2 separate regions of the Homo sapiens genome follow, and region 2 is linked to region 1. Evidence: fine-mapped expression QTL. A gene starts in region 1. The other region holds a variant in brackets. All regions are shown on one strand. Distances are between the middles of the regions. Region 1 holds the start of ZNF394 (zinc finger protein 394). Region 2 overlaps ZNF655 (zinc finger protein 655).

Evidence for each region. PIP is the estimated chance that this variant, and not a neighbour inherited with it, causes the effect.
Region 2: its variant is fine-mapped to the expression of ZNF394 in whole blood (TOPMed, PIP above 0.99).

Annotation. Positions count from the first base shown.
Region 1 is chr7:99,498,712-99,501,627 of GRCh38, forward strand. It overlaps ZNF394 (zinc finger protein 394), which reads right to left and starts at 1,570. Exons shown (of 3, transcript NM_032164.4): 1 at 927-1,570; 2 at 5-131. The coding sequence starts at 1,382. RefSeq lists enhancers at 10-678, 901-1,180.
Region 2 is chr7:99,572,501-99,575,416 of GRCh38, forward strand. It overlaps ZNF655 (zinc finger protein 655), which reads left to right. Exons shown (of 3, transcript NM_138494.3): 3 at 1-2,916. The coding sequence ends at 1,084. Among named protein-coding and RNA genes, the nearest start is that of ZNF655, 15 kb to the left of the region's middle. The variant C/T (reference allele first, on the strand shown) is at 1,326.

The DNA.
Region 1 (2,916 bases):
TCACTCGGCGGAACTGTGCTCCCGGAATCCTTCTGCGCACTCTCTCTGCAGAAGTCCCTCCGTGCTGGGTCCAGGCGCTCCCACTCCTCCCAGGTTAGAGACACAGCCGTGTCCTCGAAAGTCACCATCCCCTGGAACAACACAAGAGCCCCATTCAGTACCTGCTGTCCCTGTACAGCACTAACACTCTTCTTGAGTCTTGTACCGACAAGGGAGTTTGGAGAGATCAGAGATAGAGGCTGACATTCTCTTGTAATCCTGAAAAGCCTTTCTGTGGACTATTTACACTAATTTTGGAGGTAGGTAGGAGCAAAATATTTCTTTAACTTATATCACTGTGATGTATGGGAATGGAAATATGATACAGATTAAAAGTAAACAAGGCCGGGCGCGGTGGCTCACGCCTGTAATCCCAGCATTTTGGGAGGCCGAGGCGGGCGGATCACCTGAGGTCAGGAGTTCGAGACCAGCCTGGCCAACACAGTGAAACCCCGTCTCTACTAAAAATACAAAAATTAGCCGGGCGTGGTGGCGGGCGCCTGTAATCCCAGCTACTCGGGAGACTGAGGCAGGAGAATCGCTTGAACCCGGGAGTCAGAGGTTGCAGCGAGCCGAGATCGCGCCATTGCACTCCAGCCTGGGCAACAAGAGTGAAACTCCATCTCAAACAACAGCAAGAACAACAAGAAAAAAAAAAAAAAGAAAAGAAAAAGAAAGAAAACCAGTAATCCGTGTTCGCTTTATGCTGAGGTCTATAACAAGTCATTTCCTGGATGGATCTGTCACTGTGGCCTACAGAAAGGAAGTCCATACACACCCCAATGTTCACACGAAATGTAATAAGGAAGTAAGTTCCGAAACGCAGAGCACCCCTAAACGCCTATTTTCCACACTCCCACCTCCAGAACAGGCCTTTCGCTTCTCACCTGGGATGAGGTTCCATCGAGCGCTCGCTGCAGAGCCCGCACCACGGCCACCGCCTCCTCCCCGCTCTCTGGGCAGTGCTCTCGCACCCAGGCTTGAAGCTCCTCGGGCAGGATGGTGAGGAACTGCTCCAGCACCAGCAGCTCCAGGATCTGCTCCTTGGAGAGCAGCTCGGGTCTCAGCCACCGACGACAGAGTTCTCGGAGCCGGCTCAGCGCCTCTTCCGGTCCAGCCACCTCCTGGTAACGCAGCTGCCTAAAGTGCAGTCGAGAAGTTTCGGGGTCCGGCGAAGCCGCGGGATAGTTGGGCTCCCAACTTCCGGGTGAGTCTTCCTCCACTTTCACGGGCAAAAGTCCGTCGCGTTGGGACGGCGCCGCGTCCTTGGACCTCGCAGCCATCACCCAGGGTCCCAACTCGGCGTCACTGCCGCGCCTCTGGGCGGTCAAGCTGGAATTCATCTTTCTCCGGCATGTGCTGCCCTTCCTGGAGTCTTCTTTTCAGGTGAAGAAAGAGCAAACCCAAGGAACTCATCAGCCGTCAACACCCTCCGGTCCCAAACACCGGGCCCCACCACACCAGGCCCCTCTCCACACTCTCCTTTCCTCAGCTTTGCGCCTACAACTCTCTCGGTCAAACAACCGAAAACATCCCGTGCCGGAAGCGCGTCATCGAGGCCTTGCGGCACCTTTCCCTGCATTTCCGGGGCCTCTCTAGGCGCCTGATGGGGTGAGGTGCATCTCGCTGGTTTATCGTCCTAGCCCCGCCCGACGCAGAGGGTCTTGACGGTTTCCCGCATCCCGAGGAAATACGGGCGTCCGAGCCGGTGGCCGAGCTCCGGCAAGGGCGGGAACCTTCAGGATTAAATAGACAGGGTCTGGCTCTGTCGCCCAGGCTGGACTGCAGTGGCGCGATTTCGGCTCACTGCAACTTCTGTCTCCCGGGTTCAAGCAATTCTCCAGCTTCAGCCTCCCAAGTATCTAGGACTACAGGTGCGCGCGACCACGCCCGGTTTATTAATTTTTCTGTGGGGATGGGGTTTCATTATATTGCCCAGGTTGGACAAAGTTGTTTTTTTTTCTTTTTTCAGGCGGACTCTCGCTCTGTCGCCAGGCTGTCTTAGCCTCCTGAGTAGCTTGGACTACAGGCGCGCGCCACCATGCCCGGCTACTTTCTGTATTTTAGTAGAGATGGGGTTTCACCATGTTGGTCAGGCTGGTCTGGAACTCCTGACCTCGTGATCCGCCTGCCCCGGCCTCCCAAAGTGCTGGATTACAGGCGTGAGCCGCTGCGCCCAGTTGGAAAAAGTTTTGTTTTTTTTTTAAAACTAAGTGCTTCCATGTACATCAGATGTTAACGACTTTGATCCTAACAAACAAACAAAAAAGATGAGGAAATTGAGGCTCAAAGATGTGTCCTGGCCTGGCTCAGTGGCGTATGCCTGTAATCCCAGCATTTTGGGAGGCTGAGGGGGGAAGATCGCTTGAAGCCAAGAATTGGAGACCCCAATGTCTACAAAAAATAAAAAATTAGCTGGGTGTGGTGGTGCACACCTGTAGTCCCAGTGAGAGGTGAAGCTAGTTGGACTTCCTGGGTCCAGTGGGGACTTGGACAACTTTTCTGTCTTACAAGAGGTTTGTAAAAATGCACCAATCAGCGCTCTGTAGCTAGCAAGAGGTTTGTAAAATGCACCAATCAGCGCTCTGTAAAATGGACCAATCAGCAGGATTCTAAAAGCAGCCAATCGCAGGGAGGATGGAAAAAAGGGCGTTCTGATACGACAGAAACGGACATGGGAGGGGACAAATAAGAGACTAAAAGCTCCCACCCCAGTCAGCGGAGGCAACCGGCTGGAGTGCTCTGCCATGCTGTGGAAGGTTTGTTCTTTCGCTCTTCACAATAAATCTTGCTGCTACTCACTCTTTGGGTCCGTGCCATCTTTAAGAGCTGTAACACAGTGAAGGTCGGAGGCTGCATTCTTGAAGTCAGCGAGAG
Region 2 (2,916 bases), 74 kb after region 1:
TCATGAACCCGAAAAAAGCTTCAGTCTGGACTCTACTATTGATGCAGATCAGAGAGTTCTTAGAATACAGAATACCGATGACAATGATAAGTATGACATGAGCTTCAACCAGAATTCAGCCTCTGGTAAACATGAACACTTAAATCTAACAGAGGATTTTCAGAGTAGTGAATGTAAGGAAAGCTTAATGGATCTCTCCCACCTTAATAAATGGGAGAGCATCCCTAACACTGAGAAATCCTATAAATGTGATGTATGTGGGAAAATTTTCCATCAGAGCTCAGCCCTTACTAGACATCAGAGAATCCATACTAGAGAGAAGCCCTACAAATGTAAAGAATGTGAAAAGTCTTTCAGTCAGAGCTCAAGTCTTAGTCGACATAAAAGAATACACACTAGAGAAAAACCTTACAAATGTGAAGCATCTGATAAATCCTGTGAAGCGTCTGATAAATCCTGTAGTCCAAGCTCAGGCATAATTCAGCATAAGAAAATTCACACCAGAGCCAAATCTTACAAATGTAGCAGTTGTGAAAGAGTCTTCAGTCGTAGTGTCCACCTTACTCAACATCAGAAAATTCACAAAGAGATGCCCTGTAAGTGTACTGTATGTGGCAGTGACTTCTGCCATACTTCATACCTACTTGAACATCAGAGGGTCCATCATGAAGAGAAAGCCTATGAGTATGATGAATATGGGTTGGCCTATATTAAACAACAAGGAATTCATTTCAGAGAAAAGCCCTATACGTGTAGTGAATGTGGAAAAGACTTCAGATTGAATTCACATCTTATTCAGCATCAAAGAATTCACACAGGAGAGAAAGCACATGAATGTAATGAATGTGGAAAAGCTTTCAGTCAAACCTCATGCCTTATTCAGCATCACAAAATGCATAGGAAAGAGAAATCGTATGAATGTAATGAGTATGAGGGCAGTTTCAGTCATAGCTCAGATCTTATCCTGCAACAAGAAGTCCTCACCAGACAGAAAGCCTTTGATTGTGATGTATGGGAAAAGAACTCCAGTCAGAGAGCACATCTAGTTCAACATCAGAGCATTCATACCAAAGAGAACTCATGAATGTAATGAAGATGGGAAGATATTTATCAAATTCAGGCTTCATTCAGCATCTGAGAGTTCACACCAGGGAGAAATCATGTATGTACTGCATGTGGTAAAGCCTTCAGTCATAGCTCAGCCATTGCTCAGCATCAGATAATTCACACCAGAGAGAAACCCTCTGAATGTGACGAATGAAGAAAAGGTATTAGTGTTAAACTCTTAATCGACTCCTGCAAATCTATACCAGTGAGAAATCTTA[C/T]AAATGTATTGAATGTGGCAAATTTTTCATGCTATTAGTATTTTCATACCTTAGTCACATTTGGAGAATTCACATGGGAATAAAATTCCATTGCTGCAATGAATGTGAAAAAGCCATCAGTCAAAGAAACTACCTTGTTTAGTATCAAATTCACGCCATGCAAAAAGATTATAAATGTAATAAGCATGTATGTGTGTGAGGAGATTCAGTCATAACCCAACGCTCATTCAACATCAAAGAATTTATACCTAAGAGAACTTATTTGGGTGTAGTAAATGGCAGATCTTTCAATAGGAGTTTAACTAGTCTTTGTCATATCAGAATATCCATAGTAGACAAGAATTTGATGTAACGCAAATGGAAAAACTCGACACCACATTTCAGGCTTTACCCAACATCGAAATAATGGAGAGAAAATTGTTGATTATTTGTTTATGAAATTGTTAATACATAGTCCCAATCTTTTTCATTGCACAAAAATCTAGGGTTGACTTGGTAAATGCAGTGACATTTTCTCATGGAGTTCCTTTATTTAATATGTATTCTAAGTAGGTACGTTTATTTTTACTTTTTTATTATAATTTTGATATTAAAAAGAACAGAGATGGGGTCTTGCTTTGTTGCCCAGGCTGGTCTTGAACTCCTGGCCTCAAGCGATCCTCCCACCTGTCCTCCCAAAGTGCTGGGGTTACAGGCGTGTGTCACTGTGCTGGGCCTATTTTATTTATAGAACTCATTTAAGCTGTTTTTATTTTAATATGCCCTATAAACATTTTTATATTTTTTGAAATTGGTTCTTAGTGTTCACAACTTCCATAAGATACTGCTAATGCACCAGTATTAAAACACATCGACGTAAGTAGCTCATTTAGCTTTTTCTGCTGTTCTTGGCCCAAGTTCTTTCCAAAACCAACTCTTAGGCCTGCTCTTTACTAGGGATCTTATGTCGTATTGCTTTACAGCCACAACACTTGGATTCCTGTTGATTAACTTCTCCATTCTCTTAAGCACCTTTAGAAGATTTAGAAGTTTCCTAGTTTTAAGTGTTTCACCAGCAAGTATTCCATACCTACTTGATGTTGCTGGTCTGGTGTCTTATTTCCTAAAGTGAAGCATCTTTTTTTAAAAAAGAATTTGATTGACAATATATCCAGTCCAATATAAGTATGAAGGATTCTCTCTCCTGAGATTGTAGCAGGCAGCCAAACATTTTCAAATGATGCCCAAGGTTTTAGCTGTCTTGTGTGCATCCACAGTCTGCGAAGAAGACATGATAAGGACATCAGGGAGCCAACAAGACTCCTAATAGCCTCACTACATTCATCCAGTGCCTATTCTGCATGCCTAAGCTTAGAGTTCTTTTATATACCTCTACGGCCAGCAAAATGCTCAGGTCTGCTCTTGGTAGGGTAAACATAAAGAAGATACACAGGCCGGGCATGGTGGCTCACACCTGTAATCCCAGCACTTTGGGAGGCTGAGGCGGATGGATCACGAGGTCAGGCAGTCGAGACCATCCTGGCCAACATGGTGAAACCCCGTCTCTACTAAAAATACAAAAGTTAGCCGGGTGTGGTGGCACGCGCCTGTA